Linked DNA regions of Homo sapiens. The protein of the gene in region 1 interacts with the protein of each later gene in a biochemical or structural test. Each region holds a gene or a part of one and is shown on either strand. Other genes may lie near its edges.

Region 1 (10,302 bases):
GGCAGCTCCTGCCTATAATCCCAGCATTTTGAGAGGCCAAGACAGGACGATCACTTGAGGTCAGGAGTTTGAGACCAGCCTGGGGAATATAGTGAAACCCTGTCTCTAAAACAAAAACCCAAAAATAATCCAGACGTGGCAGTGCATGCCTGTAGTTCCAGCTACTTGGGAGGCTGAGGCGGGAGGATCGCTTGAGCCCAGGGAGGTGGAGGCTGCAATGAGCTGTGATCAGGCCACTGTACTCCAGCTTGGGCAACAGAGTGAGAACATGTCTTTTTTTTTTTTTTTTGAGACAGAGTCTTGCTCTGTCACCCAGGCTGGAGTGCAGTAGTGTGATCTCAGCTCACTGCAACCTCCACCTCCCGGGTTCAATTGATTCTCCTGCCTCAGCCTCCCAAGTAGCTGAGATTACAGGCGCACACCACCATGTCCGGCTAAAATTTGTATTTTTAGTAGAGATGGGTTTCACTTGTTGGCCAGGCTGGTCTCAAACTTCTGACCTCAGGTGATCTCCTGCCTCAGCCTCACAAAATGCTAGGATTATGGGTGTGAGCCATCATGCCTGGCCCAGATCCTGTCTTTAATAAAACAAACAGGTAGCTGGAGGCAGGGTTGCAGTGAGCTTTACCACTGCACTCTAGCCTGGGGGACTGTCTCAAAACAAACAAACAAAAAAAATTAAAAAATAATAAAAATAAGGCCAGTCGTGGTGGCTTATGCCTGTAATCCCAGCACTTTGGGAGGCAGAGGTGGGCGGATCACAAGGTCAGGAGTTCAGACCAGCCTGGCCAACGTGGTGAAACCCCATCCTACTAAAAATACAAAAATTAGCCGGGCGTGGTGGTGGGCACCTGTGGTCCCAGCTACTCGGGAGGCTGAGGCAGGAGAATCACTTGAACATGGGAGGCGGAGGTTGCAGTGAATCGAGATCGCCCCACTGCACTCCAGCCTGGCACACAAAGGAAGACTCCTTCTCAAAAAATAAATAAATAAAAAAAAATAAAAATAATAAAAAAGAGGACAGAGGGCCCCGAGGAGGTAGGAGGGATGCCCAGGGCCACCCCGCCGGCCCCACTAACCCCCCTGTGCTCCCCGGCCAGGACTCCTGCGGGCCAGCCTCTCCGAGGACCGCGCGGGGCTGGTGTCGGTGAACCTGCTGGTAACGTCGTCGGTGGCGGCCTTCGTGGTGGGAGCCGTGGTGTCCGGCTTCAGCGTGGGCTGGTTCGTGGGCCTCCGTGAGCGGCGGGAGCTGGCCCGGCGCAAGGACAAGGAGGCCATCCTGGCGCACGGGGCGGGCGAGGCGGTGCTGAGCGTCAGCCGCCTGGGCGAGCGCAGGGCGCAGGGTCCCGGGGGCCGGGGCGGAGGCGGTGGCGGTGGCGCCGGGGTTCCCCCGGAGGCCCTGCTGGCGCCCCTGATGCAGAACGGCTGGGCCAAGGCCACGCTGCTGCAGGGCGGGCCCCACGACCTGGACTCGGGGCTGCTGCCCACGCCCGAGCAGACGCCGCTGCCGCAGAAGCGCCTGCCCACTCCGCACCCGCACCCCCACGCCCTGGGCCCCCGCGCCTGGGACCACGGCCACCCCCTGCTCCCGGCCTCCGCTTCATCCTCCCTCCTGCTGCTGGCGCCCGCCCGGGCCCCCGAGCAGCCCCCCGCGCCTGGGGAGCCGACCCCCGACGGCCGCCTCTATGCTGCCCGGCCCGGCCGCGCCTCCCACGGCGACTTCCCGCTCACCCCCCACGCCAGCCCGGACCGCCGGCGGGTGGTGTCCGCGCCCACGGGCCCCTTGGACCCAGCCTCAGCCGCCGATGGCCTCCCGCGGCCCTGGAGCCCGCCCCCGACGGGCAGCCTGAGGAGGCCACTGGGCCCCCACGCCCCTCCGGCCGCCACCCTGCGCCGCACCCACACGTTCAACAGCGGCGAGGCCCGGCCTGGGGACCGCCACCGCGGCTGCCACGCCCGGCCGGGCACAGACTTGGCCCACCTCCTCCCCTATGGGGGGGCGGACAGGACTGCGCCCCCCGTGCCCTAGGCCGGGGGCCCCCCGATGCCTTGGCAGTGCCAGCCACGGGAACCAGGAGCGAGAGACGGTGCCAGAACGCCGGGGCCCGGGGCAACTCCGAGTGGGTGCTCAAGTCCCCCCCGCGACCCACCCGCGGAGTGGGGGGCCCCCTCCGCCACAAGGAAGCACAACCAGCTCGCCCTCCCCCTACCCGGGGCCGCAGGACGCTGAGACGGTTTGGGGGTGGGTGGGCGGGAGGACTTTGCTATGGATTTGAGGTTGACCTTATGCGCGTAGGTTTTGGTTTTTTTTGCAGTTTTGGTTTCTTTTGCGGTTTTCTAACCAATTGCACAACTCCGTTCTCGGGGTGGCGGCAGGCAGGGGAGGCTTGGACGCCGGTGGGGAATGGGGGGCCACAGCTGCAGACCTAAGCCCTCCCCCACCCCTGGAAAGGTCCCTCCCCAACCCAGGCCCCTGGCGTGTGTGGGTGTGCGTGCGTGTGCGTGCCGTGTTCGTGTGCAAGGGGCCGGGGAGGTGGGCGTGTGTGTGCGTGCCAGCGAAGGCTGCTGTGGGCGTGTGTGTCAAGTGGGCCACGCGTGCAGGGTGTGTGTCCACGAGCGACGATCGTGGTGGCCCCAGCGGCCTGGGCGTTGGCTGAGCCGACGCTGGGGCTTCCAGAAGGCCCGGGGGTCTCCGAGGTGCCGGTTAGGAGTTTGAACCCCCCCCACTCTGCAGAGGGAAGCGGGGACAATGCCGGGGTTTCAGGCAGGAGACACGAGGAGGGCCTGCCCGGAAGTCACATCGGCAGCAGCTGTCTAAAGGGCTTGGGGGCCTGGGGGGCGGCGAAGGTGGGTGGGGCCCCTCTGTAAATACGGCCCCAGGGTGGTGAGAGAGTCCCATGCCACCCGTCCCCTTGTGACCTCCCCCCTCTGACCTCCAGCTGACCATGCATGCCACGTGGCTGGCTGGGTCCTCTGCCCTCTCTGGAGTTTGCCTCCCCCAGCCCCCTCCCCATCAATAAAACTCTGTTTACAACCACCGGCCCCCATGACTCTGGCTCTGCTCTGCCTCCTGGGGGTGGCACGGGTGGGGGCACCCTCAAAAGTCAAGGCCAGGCCGGGCGCGGTGGCTCACGCCTGTAATCCCGGCACTTTGGGAGGCCGAGGTGTGCAGATCACTTGAGGTCAAGAGTTCGAGACTAGCCTGGCCAACATGGCAAAACCCCGTCTCTACTAAAAATACAAAAAATCAGCCAGGCTTGGTGGCGGGTTCCTGTAATTCCAGCTACTCGGCCGACTGAGGCAGAAGAATAGCTTGAATCTGAGAGTCAGAGGTTGCAGTGAGCTGAGATCACACCACTGCACTACAGCCTGGGTGACAGAGCGAGACGCTGTCTCAAAAAAAAAAAAAAAAAAAAGGCTGGGTCAAAACAAATCTGGGGAGCTGAGTGTGGAAACATGGAGACTTCGGGGTCCCCATCTTCATCTGCATAGGAGCCAGTTTCTTTTTCTTTTTCTTTTTCTTTTTTTGAGACAGAGTCTCACTTTGTCACCCAGGCTGGAGTATAGTGGCGCGATCTCGGCTCACTGCAACCTATGCCTCCTGGGTGCAAGCAATTCTCCTGTCTCAGCCTCTCCAGTAGCTGGGACTACAGGCACCCGCCACCACGCCCCGCTAATTTTTGTATTTTTAGTACAGACGGGGTTTCATCATATTGGTCAGGCTGGTCTCGAACTCCTGAACTCAGGTGATCCGCTTGCCTCGGCCTCCCAAAATGCTGGGATTACAGGCGTGAGCCACTGCGCCTGGCCAGCCTTATGAATTTTGTTTTAAGTGGGACAAGAAGCCATCAGAGAGTTTTAAGCAGGGATGTGATCTCATTTCATTTTAATGGATCGTTTTGTTACTGTGTCACTACATTTCACAAGCCTTCCTTCCTCTCAGTCCATGTTGATTAAGACCAACTAACGGCTGGGCTCCGGAGACTGGGCAGGGCACAAGACTGACGGAGTGCAGTGGCTCACGTCTATAACCCCAGCACTTTGAGAGACTGAGAAGATTCCTTGAGCCCAGGAGTTTGAGACCAGCCTAGGTAACATACAAAAGAATTTTTTAAATTAGCCAGGCATGGTAGCATGTGCCTGTATTCCCAGCTACTCGGGAGGCTGAGGCAGGAGAATCGTTTGAACCCAGGAGGTGGAGCTTGCAGTGAGCCGAAATTGCATCACTGCACTCCAGCATGGGTGGCAGAGGGAGACTCCATCTCAAAAAAAATTAGCCAGGCATGGTGGCACGTGCCCGTAGTCCCAGCTACTTGGGAGGCCTTGGACCCATGGTCAAAGCTACAGTTAGCTATGATTGCACCACACTGCTCCAAGCTGGGTAACAGAGCAAAATGCTGTCTCAAAAAAAAAAAAAAATGACGGGGCATGGTGGCTCACACCTGTAATTTTAGCAGTTTAGGAGGCCGAGGCCAGTGGATCACATGAGCTCAGGAGTTCAAGACCAGCCTGGGCCACATGGCAAAATCCTGTCTCTATTAAAAATATAAAAATTAACCAGGCACGCTGGTGCATGCCTGTAGTCCCAGCTACTCGGGAGGCTGAGGTGGGAGAATGGCGTGAACCCGGGAGGCGGAGCTTGCAGTGAGTGGAGATCACGCCACTGCACTCCAGCCTAGGCAACAGTGCAAGACTCTGTCTCAAAAAAAAAAAGAAAAAAAAAATAGTCATAGCTGCAGATAAAGGTGACACCATCATACCTAAATATTTAGAACTCAACAAGAATGCAAGCACTCTGCAGCCAAGTCCATGAGATGCAGCCAAAGCTGTTCTCAAAGGGAAATTTGTAGCCTCCAAACGCATTTAATAGGAAATGAGGAAGAATGGAAACAATAGCATGGATGTCAGATTCAGATGAAGAGAAAAAAGGGCAGAAGGAGCCCTTGGAGATTTGAGTTCAGCTTCATAGATGGGGAAACTGAGGCCAAGAAAAGTTAAGTCACTTGCCAAAGGTCACAAAGCAAAGGTGTTCATGACAGAGCTGGAATTCAGAACCAGGTTTGGTTCCTCCCAAGCCACTGTCTAAGGACCGTAGAGACGTTTGGCATTACTCACTATTGGACTGTATTTTTAAAATGACTTCTTTTAAAAAAAGCAATATCAACATACCATGAAATCAAGACGAGTTTTTTTGTTCTTTTCAGTGAGCTTCTGGGTTGCTCAAGTTTATGGTAAATCCCTCCTCTTGCTCAGAGAGCTGTCCCTGTCTCCAGGAATAGTGCCTTGCAAACCTTGACCCTTGAACTCCGGGTTGGGGGAAGTGAGGATGCAACTAGAGAGACTCTTGGATGCCCCCCAAAAATCAGGAAGCAAGGAAAGAAAAACCTGTGTTCTAGAAGCAGGGTCAAAAAGGGGTTGAACAGGAAACAATTTCCAGGAAGCAATTTTGTAATCCTGACCCCTCCCCTTCCCCTGCCTGGCTTAGGCTCAGCCCCTATCAGGAACTGGACGGGGGTGGGGACTTCCCCAGGGTTGGTTCCCCTGCCCCCAGTCCAGGCAGGTATAAGGCCACCTCCGCAGGCCAGGACAACCCAGAAGCAAAAGAGCAGAGCTACCATGTCCTCTTGGAGCAGACAGCGACCAAAAAGGTAGGTCCCCACACTACCTGTCCTAGGCAGGTTTGAACGCCAGACCATGCGGAGATACAGGACATTCCAGCTAACCCATAGAAGTCACAGGGAGCAGATACAGGCCTGGTGGCTGGCACAGATCAACCTTATCTGTGACAGAAAGACTGGCGCGTGCACACACACACACACCCCTACAGAAGCCCAGGTGGGCATGGGCAGCAGGGAGCCGGGGGAGGCTTCTTGTTAGAGGCCTGGGGCCACAGTGACCAAGGCTGTCGAGATCATGTCTGATGGCTGCCGGGCCAGGGAAGCCCTGGAGGAGGAGGGGAAGCCCCAGGCTTCCAAGGGTTGTGGTGCTAAGTGTAAACCACCGCTTCCCAAGGCCAAATGCCCACCCTCAGACCTGGCCAAAGCAGGACACACTTTTCATGTTCAGAGGCTGCAGTGAGCTGTGATCATGCCAGTTCCCTCCAGCCTGGGCAACTGAGCAAGACTCTGTCTCAAAAACATGAACCTGAACGTCTGTCTTCCTCCAAGCACCCAATTGGTCAAGAGTGGACAAAAAGACCAGGATCCCAGAGCAGAGAAGTCTTCATGGAAAAGAGGGCATTGGAGCTGGGGCTTTGAAGGATGAATAGGAGTTCACATCAAAACACAGAGCCAGGGAGACAAGGACTGACCCAGAAAATAAGCCAGATCAGAAGAAACTAGCAAGTTGGACTGTGAATAATTAACAGCTCATGGGGGCTAGGCTGGTGATGGGGAAGTGTATTCATATTATGCGGGAGTTACACTCAGAAACTCAACTTTCCTAGAATTATAATTCTCCCTGGAACAGGGGCCACTTCTGGCAGCTGTCGGGGGTGAGGGTAGAAGCTGGAAGAGGAGGAGGAAGCAACTGCCCTAGTACAGGTGAGAGATGAGGTAGCATAGTCCAGGCTGGTAGCCGCAGAGATGGGAAGAAGTGGGCGGATTTGCTGGTGTATTTTCACCTAGCTGAGTGTATTTTCACTGTGGTTTAGTAAGCATCTTCTGTTACTGCCTGCAGCCCAGGGGGCATTCAACCCCATGTTTCTAGAACTCTGTTCCTGCTGCTGCTGTTGGCAGCCTCAGCCTGGGGGGTCACCCTGAGCCCCAAAGACTGCCAGGTGTTCCGCTCAGACCATGGCAGCTCCATCTCCTGTCAACCACCTGCCGAAATCCCCGGCTACCTGCCAGCCGACACCGTGCACCTGGCCGTGGAATTCTTCAACCTGACCCACCTGCCAGCCAACCTCCTCCAGGGCGCCTCTAAGCTCCAAGAATTGCACCTCTCCAGCAATGGGCTGGAAAGCCTCTCGCCCGAATTCCTGCGGCCAGTGCCGCAGCTGAGGGTGCTGGATCTAACCCGAAACGCCCTGACCGGGCTGCCCCCGGGCCTCTTCCAGGCCTCAGCCACCCTGGACACCCTGGTATTGAAAGAAAACCAGCTGGAGGTCCTGGAGGTCTCGTGGCTACACGGCCTGAAAGCTCTGGGGCATCTGGACCTGTCTGGGAACCGCCTCCGGAAACTGCCCCCCGGGCTGCTGGCCAACTTCACCCTCCTGCGCACCCTTGACCTTGGGGAGAACCAGTTGGAGACCTTGCCACCTGACCTCCTGAGGGGTCCGCTGCAATTAGAACGGCTACATCTAGAAGGCAACAAATTGCAAGTACTGGGAAAAGATCTCCTCTTGCCGCAGCCGGACCTGCGCTACCTCTTCCTGAACGGCAACAAGCTGGCCAGGGTGGCAGCCGGTGCCTTCCAGGGCCTGCGGCAGCTGGACATGCTGGACCTCTCCAATAACTCACTGGCCAGCGTGCCCGAGGGGCTCTGGGCATCCCTAGGGCAGCCAAACTGGGACATGCGGGATGGCTTCGACATCTCCGGCAACCCCTGGATCTGTGACCAGAACCTGAGCGACCTCTATCGTTGGCTTCAGGCCCAAAAAGACAAGATGTTTTCCCAGAATGACACGCGCTGTGCTGGGCCTGAAGCCGTGAAGGGCCAGACGCTCCTGGCAGTGGCCAAGTCCCAGTGAGACCAGGGGCTTGGGTTGAGGGTGGGGGGTCTGGTAGAACACTGCAACCCGCTTAACAAATAATCCTGCCTTTGGCCGGGTGCGGGGGCTCACGCCTGTAATCCCAGCACTTTGGGAGGCCCAGGTGGGCGGATCACGAGGTCAGGAGATCGAGACCATCTTGGCTAACATGGTGAAACCCTGTCTCTACTAAAAATATAAAAAATTAGCCAGGCGTGGTGGTGGGCACCTGTAGTCCCAGCAACTCGGGAGGCTGAGGCAGGAGAATGGCGTGAACTTGGGAGGCGGAGCTTGCGGTGAGCCAAGATCGTGCCACTGCACTCTAGCCTGGGCGACAGAGCAAGACTGTCTCAAAAAAATTAAAATTAAAATTAAAAACAAATAATCCTGCCTTTTACAGGTGAAACTCGGGGCTGTCCATAGCGGCTGGGACCCCGTTTCATCCATCCATGCTTCCTAGAACACACGATGGGCTTTCCTTACCCATGCCCAAGGTGTGCCCTCCGTCTGGAATGCCGTTCCCTGTTTCCCAGATCTCTTGAACTCTGGGTTCTCCCAGCCCCTTGTCCTTCCTTCCAGCTGAGCCCTGGCCACACTGGGGCTGCCTTTCTCTGACTCTGTCTTCCCCAAGTCAGGGGGCTCTCTGAGTGCAGGGTCTGATGCTGAGTCCCACTTAGCTTGGGGTCAGAACCAAGGGGTTTAATAAATAACCCTTGAAAACTGGATCGGATGAATTGGCTTTCATTGTGTTCCTAGCATCTTCTCAAATCAACTTCCCAGGACTCCAGGGTGAAGGAGGAAAAGAGGCATGGCCCAGGCCCTGGGGTGTGGGATATGGTCTCCCTAGGGGATGACAGTTGGGATCAATGGCCTGTGACTTCTCCTCTCCCTTCCCCCATCCTGGGACCTAACTGGAAATAAAACCTTGACTGTTGCCCGGGTGTCATTTTACCAGTGGATTTCTGCCAGGGCTTGTGTCCTAGGAGAAGGTTTAAGTTAAACCAGATTGCCCAGGTCTCCAAACGATTTGTCATGCTGACCTGAGATCATCGAAGGGGGCACCTGCCCCCGGGCAAGGTTGCAGGGGCAGGATGGGGCTGAAGGGATGAGCAGGGTCCCGGGCCCACCTGCTGATACAGCATTGGCCATGTGGGGGCTGCAATCGGATTTGGAAGACCCTGGGGCTTGGGGGCATGTCCAGTTTTCCCAGCTCCCTAAAAAATGACCATGCAGCCTGGCGCCGTGGCTCATGCCTGTAATCCAAACACTTTGGGAGGCTGAGGCAGGCAGATCACCGGAGGTCAGGAGTTCGAGACCAGACTGGCCAACATGGCAAAACCCTGTCTCTACTAAAAATACAAAAATTAGCCAGGCACAGTGGCACGTGCCTGTAATACCAGCTACTTGGGAGGGTCAGGCAGGAGAATCACTTGAACCTGGGAGGCGGAGGTTGCAGTGAGCCAAGATCACGCCACTGCACTCCAGGCTGGGCGACAGAGTGAAACTGTGTCTCAAAAATAAAAATAAAAATAAAAAGACCATGCCTACATCTGTGGTCATTCCAGGCAAGGCAATGAAAAGGCAGGGTTCTGAGGTCCAGCAGGGCTGGGTTTGAATAGGATCCCTGGCCGGGCACGGTGGCTCATGCCTGTAATCCTAGTACTTTGGGAGGCCAAGGCAGGCAAATCACGAGGTCAGGAGTCCAAGACCAGCCTGACGAATATGGTGACACCCCGTCTCTACTAAAAATACAAAAATTAGCTAGGTGTGGTGGCAGGCGCCTGTAATCCCAGCTACTCCGGAGGCCGAGGCAGGAGAATCACTTGAACCCAGGGGGCGGAGGTTGCAGTGTGTCAAGATCGCGCCACTGCACTCCAGCCTGGGCGACAGAGTCAGACTCTGTCTCAAAAAAAAAAAAAGAAAAAAAAGGAATAGGATCCCTCACTTGCTGTGGTATGCGGGGCAAGTGTTTTATGATCTCTGAGCCTCAGCTTGCTCATCTGTGAAATGGGGATCCTAGGGAAAGGGAAGGCCTGGCTTCTGGCTTAGTTAAGGGGCAGATTAAGAAATAAAAAGAGGCTGGGTGCAATGGCTCACACCTGTAATCCCAGCAATTTGGAAGGCTGAGGTGGAAGGATCACTTGGGGCTCAGGGGTTGAAGACAAGCCTGGTCAACACAGGGACATCTCGTCTCTACAAAAAGTTTAAAAAGTTAGCTGGGGGTGGTGGTGTGTGCCTGTGGTCCCAGCTACTTAGGAGACTGAGGCGGGAGGATCACCTCAGCCTGGGAGGGCAAGGCTGCAGTGAGCTATGATCACACCACTGCACTCTAGCCCTGGGCAACCGAGCAAGACCCAGTCTCAAAAATCGATAAATAATAATAATTAATAAGAAAAGTCATCAGCGAGTTGGCCAAGGTCACTCAGCAGGGCTATGGGGGCTGTGATCGCATGGACTGTCTCTATGGCAACAGCAGTGAGGATGACAGGTGGCCAAACTTGGTCCGGGAACGTATAATAGCTCAATCTTTTGAATCTAGCGCTCCCGAATTACTATGGCAACCGTAGGGCACTGGGCCAGCTCAAGGAGAGGGCGAGGGAAGCCTGGAGCCA
Region 2 (7,000 bases), on another chromosome or scaffold:
CCCAGCACTTTGGGAGGCCGAGGCGGGTGGATCACAAGGTCAGGAGATCGAGACCATCCTGGCTAACACAGTGAAACCCTGTCCCTACTAAAAATACAAAAAATTAACCGGGTGTGGTGGCAGGCGCCTGTAGTCCCAGCTAATCGGGAGGCTGAGGCAGGAGAATGGTGTGAACCCGGGAGGCAGAGCTTGCAGTGAGCTGAGATCGCACCACTGTACTCCAGCTTGGGTGACAGAGAGAGACTCCATCTCAAAGAAAAAAAAAAAAGCCTATACAATATGATCACTGCCTGGTTGACAAACAAATATATTTGTTATAAAAATAACACATGGTGAATACAAAATATTAGCCAGGCATGGTGGTAGGCGCCTGTAGTCCCAGCTACTTGGGAGGCTGAGGCAGGAGAATGGCCTGAACCCGGGAGGCGGAGCTTGCAGTGAGCCAAGATCATGCCACTGCACTCCAGCCTGGGCAACAGAGCAAGACTCGTCTCAAAATAAAATGAAAGAACACATGCTGGCCAGGCACAGTGGCTCACACCTGTAACCCTAGCACTTTGGAGGCCGAGGCAGGCAGATTGCCGGAGCTCAAGAGTTTGAGACCAGCCTGGGCAACACGGTGAAACCCTGTCTCTACTAAAATAGAAAAAATTAGCCGGACGTGGTGGTGCACGCCTGTAGTCCCAGCTACTCAGGAGGCTGAGGCAGGAGAATCGCTTGAACCCGGTAGAGGGAGATTGCAGTGAGCTGAGATTGTGCCACTGCACTCCAGCCTGGGCGACAGAGCGAGACTCCATTTCAAACAAACAAACAAAAAACATGCTTTAAAAAATATGTGAAAATTAGAAAATCTTAACCTTCTGACACAAAGACAATGGCTGCCAACATTTTGGTGTGCTTCTTTCTAGAGCGTTTTCTCTGTGTATTTCTTATATTGATGTAATCATAAGAGATGTGTTCATTTGTCTCTTACTATTTCACTTAATGTATTTTTAGAGCTTTGACAGCTGTACCTAATATCATGTTTAATAAGCACATATTATTCCATCATATTGACATGCTATAATTAACTCCTCTTCCCTTGTTACACATTTAGGTTGTTCCCAATTCTGTAGTATTATAAATATGCAAAAAATGTCATTGTGCATGAAACATTTCTTTATATAGGATTATTTTCTCAGGATAGATTTCCACATTAGTGGAATTACTGGGTCAAAATGAATGAAGTTTCAATACATGTTGCCAACCCACTTTCCCAAAGATGATTTGAATTTTCACCACTGATTTACGAGAACACCTCAACCTCTTCGCTGTCTCCAGACTATAATTCAAAAAAAGAGAAACCTTTGCCAGTGTGGGAAGAGGCACATGGCGTTCCATTCTTGTTTTAGTTGTAATTCTCTGGTTAGTAGTGAGTGTGGGCATGGTTCCACGTGAGTGATGAGAACCTCAGTCTCCTTATCATTGAGGCTTGGTATTTTTCTTGATGATTTTTATAAGTTTTAATAAAGAAAAAAAGGTTGCCCCTTTGGCCACCACTTCCCTTGATTTGCTGTAATTCTTTCAATTTTGGCTACAGTGGTTTTTCTTTTCTTTTCTTTTTTTTTCTTTGAGACAGTCTTGCTCTGTCACCCAGGCTGGAGTTCAGTGGTACAATCTCGGCTCACTGCAACCTCCACCTCCCGGGTTCAAGTGATTCTCCTGCCTCAGCCTCCTGAGTAGTTGGGAATACAGGCGTGCACCACCACGCCTGGCTTTTTTTTTTTTTTTTTTTTTTTAAGACAGTCTCACACTATTGCCCGGGCTGGAGTACAATGGCACAATCTCGGCTCACTGAAACCTCTGCCTCCCGGGTTCAAGCAATTCTCCTGCCTCAGCCTCCCGAGTAGCTGGGATTACAGGTGCCCACCACCACTCTTGGCTTATTTTTTGTATTTTTTTTTTTAGCAGAGACGGGGTTTCACTATGTTGGTCAGGCTGGTCTCGAACTCCTGACCTTGTGATCCGCCCACCTCGGCCTCCCAAAGTGCTGGGATTACAGGTGTGAAATCAGGCGCCTGGTCCGCAGCCTAGCTACTTTTTTGTATTTTTAGTAGAGACAGGGTTTCACCATATTGGCCAGGCTGGTCTCGAACTTCCGACCTCAGGTCATCTGCCTACCTCAGCCTCCCAAAGTGCGGGGATTACAGGCGTGAGCCACTGCAACTGGCCTTCTTTTTCTTGTTTTAGAGACGAGGTCTCGCTCTGTCACCAAGGCTGGAGTGCAATGATGTGATCTCGGCTCACTGCAGCCTCCTCCTCTCAGGTTCAAGCGATTCTTGTGCCTCAGCCTTCCCAGTAGCTGGGACTATGGGTGTCTGCCACCACACCTGGCTAATTTTTATAATTTTAGTAGAGTCGGGTTTCACTATGTTGGCTAGGCAGGTCTCGAACTTCTGGCCTCCTGTGATCTGCCTGCCTCTGCCTACCAAAGTGCTGGGATTACAGGCGTGAGCCACCACGCCCAGCCTGTGCTAGACTTTTATATGACCGGCAGTGCAATAAGTTTGCTTACACCAGCATCACCACAAACACTAGGCAATAGAAATTTTTCAGCTTCGTTATAATTTTATGGGACCAGGGACCACCATCATATACACAGTCCATCACCGACCACAACATTGTCCCATGGTGCATGACAGTATTTACTATCTGGCTCTTTATAGGAACACTTCGCCCACGCCAGGCCTGAGACTGGATTATGCTTGCAGGGTTTGCATGCCCTTGGGGCTGTGAGTGATGATTATATGTGGAACTTGAAGGAATATATATATATATATTTTTTTTTTTTGAGACGGAGTCTCGCTCTGTTGCCCAGGCTGGAGTGCAATGGTGCGATCTCGGCTCACTGCAAACTCCGCCTCCCGGGCTCACGCCATTTTCCTGCCTCAGCCTCCCGAGTAGCTGGGACTACGGGAGCCCGCCACCACGCCCGGCTAATTTTTTTGTATTTTTAGTAGAGACGGGGTTTCATCATGTTAGCCAGGATGGTCTCGATCTCCTGACCTCATGATCCACCTGCCTCAGCCTCCCAAAGTGCTGGGATTACAGGCGTGAGCCACCGTACCCGGCCTGAAGGAATATTTTTAATAGTTCTGTATTTATTTTGATAGATATAAGAAAATTTGGCCAGGCGCGGTGGCTCACGCCTGTAATCCCTGCAATGGGAGGCCGAGGCAGGTGGATCACCTGAGGTCAGGAGTTTGAGACCAGCCTGGCCAACATGGTGAAACCCTATCTCTACTAAAAATACAAAAAAGTAGCCGGGCATGGTGGCACGTGCCTGTAATCCCAGCAACTCAGGAGGCCAAGGCAGGAGAATCGCTTGAACCCAGGAGGTGGAGGTTGTAGTGAGCCAAGATCGAGCCACTGCACCTGGGCAAAAAGAGTGAGACTCCATCTCAAAAAAAAGAACTTTTAAGTGGTGTAGGATGATGACATCTAACAAAAATGAAGAGGGAGCAGGGCAGGGGAATGGCTGTGACTTGGGACCCCTGGGTTGTGGTCAGTCCTTGGTGCTGGGGTGTGGCAGGCCACAGAGACCCCAGTGCCTCCTGATGGTGCCCCTCTCTTCCGACCCAGCATTTGAAGTGCACCATCACGGGCCTGACCTTCTGGGACCCCAGCTGTGAGGCAGAGGACAGGGGTGACAAGTTTGTCTTGCGCAGTGCTTACTCCAGCTGTGGCATGCAGGTGTCAGCAAGTATGATCAGCAATGAGGTAAGAGCTGGGGCCAAAAAGGTATCAGGACCAGCCTGGTTGGTGCCCCCTCAGGTGCCCTCCCTGATCCCCCAGGGTGGAGGTGTGTTTGGGAGAGCAGGCTGCAGGGGCTCAGAACACAAGACAAGCTTGGCCATTGGTTGGCTTAGTCTCCCCATCTGCAAAAATGGGCGTATTGGGTGGGATACCCTCTGGGGTCCTTTCTGGCTCTGACCAGCTCCCTGGCTTTATCCCCGCAGGCGGTGGTCAATATCCTGTCGAGCTCATCACCACAGCGGGTGAGATGGACAGTCACGTGCTAACCCACCTGGCCCAGGGGCTGCTGCTGGGCCGGGGCCTCTTCCTGGCCTGGGAGGGAGCAGGCCTCGGGAAACTCCTGGCAAGCCATGTGTGTCTGGAATGCCTCGGTCTCCCCTTCTGTATGACCGGAGCAGGACTGCTGAGGGTGACGCTCTTGGTCTCTCAAGTCAGAGGGCTTAGCACATACTGGCTGTGTGGCCTTGGGCAAGTCACTTTAGTTTTCTGGGCCCAAAGGTGGCCTAAGAAAGGACTCTGCGCCACAGGGTGCTTCTGGGCAGCCAATGAGGTGCTGTGTGGAAGCTCTTCACACAGCCTGGCAGCTGGTGCCTCCTTGATAAATATTAGTTTAAAAAAAAAAAAAAGGGCCGGGCGCAGTGGCTCACGCCTGTAATCGCAGCACTTTGGGAGGCCGAGGCGGGCAGATCACGAGGTGAAGAGATTGAGACCATCCTGGCTAACATGGTGAAACCCCGTATCTACTAAAAATACAAAAAATTAGCCGGGCGTGGTGGCGGGCACCTGTAATCCCAGCTACTTGGGAGGCTGAGGTAGGAGAATGGCATGAACCCGGGAGGCGGAGCTTGCAGTGAGCTGAGATCGCACCACTGCACTCCAGCCTGGGCGACAGAGCGAGACTCCGTCTCAAAAAAAAAAAAAAAGAGAGTCAGGCAACTCCACAGGGCCATGATGCCTGTTCCTCCCCACACCCCTCGCCCTCCTGGCTGGCGCCGCCAGATTGACCAAGTCTCCCTCCCGTCCTCCCCCAGAAAAAGGTGCACTGCCTCAACATGGACAGCCTCTCTTTCCAGCTGGGCCTCTACCTCAGCCCACACTTCCTCCAGGCCTCCAACACCATCGAGCCGGGGCAGCAGAGCTTTGTGCAGGTACCTGGCATGCCTGTCACCCCTCGGGCCTCCCAGCTCCTGGAACTTCCTCTCCGCCTTTCTTCCCACCATGACTCCAGAGGAGATGAGACTCCCAGAGTCAGGAGGGAGACAGCCTGGGTGCACGGGAGAGGGAGAGACAGAGAAGGCATTGCTCAGGGACACTGACAAGGATGTGGCCCTGTCCTCCTCCTCTGCCCCAGACAGGTCCATGTCTTTCTTTCCACTGTGAGGACTCAGGGGTGGGAACTCTTAATTCTAGCCGATATTTGAAGGCAGCAGGTGGGGTGGGGTGAAGAGCAGCTGCCCATGCCGCGTGGCCCTACCTACCCATGCAGGTCAGAGTGTCCCCATCCGTCTCCGAGTTCCTGCTCCAGTTAGACAGCTGCCACCTGGACTTGGGGCCTGAGGGAGGCACCGTGGAACTCATCCAGGGCCGGGCGGCCAAGGGCAACTGTGTGAGCCTGCTGTCCCCAAGCCCCGAGGGTGACCCGCGCTTCAGCTTCCTCCTCCACTTCTACACAGTACCCATACCCAAAACCGGCACCCTCAGCTGCACGGTAGCCCTGCGTCCCAAGACCGGGTCTCAAGACCAGGTGAGTGGGGCCTGGGCCGGCCCCAGCTTCAAGTGGGAGCTTCCAGGTCTGTGGTTTGCAGGAAGGGACATGGCAGCCCACAGGGATGTGGGGCCAGCTGGTGAGGGGCGGAGCCTTAATCAGGCATGTGGCCTGGCAGTCTGGCTGCCAGCAGCACTTTCTGCCACCCGAGAGCTTTCTGGTGGGACTGCTGTGTCTGGGGCACTGGCAGACTATGCAGCTGCCACTGTCCATCTATCCATCCATCCATCCTTTCACTTACCCGTCCGTCCATCCATCCATCCACCCTCCCACCCAGGAATCTAACCACCCGCACATCCATGTAGTATGGTCACCAGTGTAATCTCAAAGAACAGGAGACCTGAGGGAAGAGAGGCGGACAAAGGACACACACTCCTGGCTTTCTGTATTTGCCAGTCACAACACTTCACCATCTGGTGACCCCCACTCTCAGGCAATCTATCCTGGACGCCCCCAGAGTCACCCCCAGGCCCTTGCACAGACAGGCCTCCAGGATTACAAACTTCTCTGGTCATAGGAAGCTAGGGAAGCCTTCAACTCCCCTAAGTGGGCCTCTCCCTCCAGCCAGAGTGAGCCTGGGACTCTGGGCTGACCTGGCTCATAGCTCCAAAGTGTTCACAAGGGTGAGGGATGCATAGTGCTTCCACAGTGCTCCTGGGCATCAAGGCCTCCAGGAACTCACAGGAAACATTTCAGCAGCAGCCAGGGATCGTCCACTAGGCACCCTCCCACAGCACAGATCTTCCAGGACTCACCCAGAGGCATCCAGCTACGAAGCGGTGGAGATGGGATTCAAAGCCAAGGCTCTAGGGTGGGCTGGGGTCACGGAGCCAGGGAGTAAACCTGGAAGCCGCCTCCCAAAGGTGCCACATACTGCTCTCTCTTTCTCCTCCAGGAAGTCCATAGGACTGTCTTCATGCGCTTGAACATCATCAGCCCTGACCTGTCTGGTGAGCTCCCTCCAGGTCTCTCGGGTTTGTTCTAGTGGCTGAGGTCACAGTAGGGCACAGCGGGCAGCCCTGAGAAACGGCCTGGGCACATAGCACATGGCAAGGGGGACCCCAGAGAAAGCGGCCCAGAAGGGGCAGGAGGAGGGCTTCCCAGAGCCATAGCAGCCTAGAGCAGGGGCCAGAGCTGCACTTTGCAGATGGAGAGCCCTTGCCCGGGACCGCCCTGTGGGGTGGGAGTCTAGGCCTCTGCCCCCACTCACGGCTCCACTCCATCCCCACAGTTATTGGCTGACCTTGCTGGGAGGATGGAGTCTCCTGGGTGAGACAGAGGCCCTTTGAGGGTGGGTGCTGGCCTTGCCTTCCTTGAGGCCTCTCCCTGCAGGACGCCCCCTCTAGCCTCTCCATCAGTTCCCCCCAGGCCCAGGCCCACACCAGGCAGAAGAGTCCCGACACTGGTGGCAGAGGCAGGGGTGAGGGATGGGGGCACCTA

Evidence for each region.
Region 2: the proteins of LRG1 (region 1) and ENG interact in a biophysical measurement, tested with the Homo sapiens proteins (one study listed by IntAct).

The regions. Positions count from the first base shown.
Region 1 is NC_000019.10:4,535,328-4,545,629, reverse strand, and holds LRG1 (leucine-rich alpha-2-glycoprotein precursor), read left to right. Parts: upstream 1-5,593; 5' UTR 5,594-5,616; coding exon 5,617-5,648; intron 5,649-6,678; coding exon 6,679-7,690; 3' UTR 7,691-9,228; downstream 9,229-10,302. Other genes in the region: SEMA6B (semaphorin-6B precursor), read left to right, coding at 1,101-2,029.
Region 2 is NC_000009.12:127,816,659-127,823,658, reverse strand, and holds part of ENG (endoglin isoform 1 precursor), read left to right. Parts: intron 1-1,138; exon of another isoform or gene 1,139-1,321; intron 1,322-2,160; exon of another isoform or gene 2,161-2,464; intron 2,465-3,621; coding exon 3,622-3,759; intron 3,760-3,998; coding exon 3,999-4,037; intron 4,038-4,826; coding exon 4,827-4,943; intron 4,944-4,947; exon of another isoform or gene 4,948-5,059; intron 5,060-5,269; exon of another isoform or gene 5,270-5,281; coding exon 5,282-5,539; intron 5,540-5,801; exon of another isoform or gene 5,802-5,900; intron 5,901-6,315; exon of another isoform or gene 6,316-6,455; coding exon 6,456-6,510; exon of another isoform or gene 6,511-7,000. UniProt on the Homo sapiens protein: Vascular endothelium glycoprotein that plays an important role in the regulation of angiogenesis. Required for normal structure and integrity of adult vasculature. Regulates the migration of vascular endothelial cells.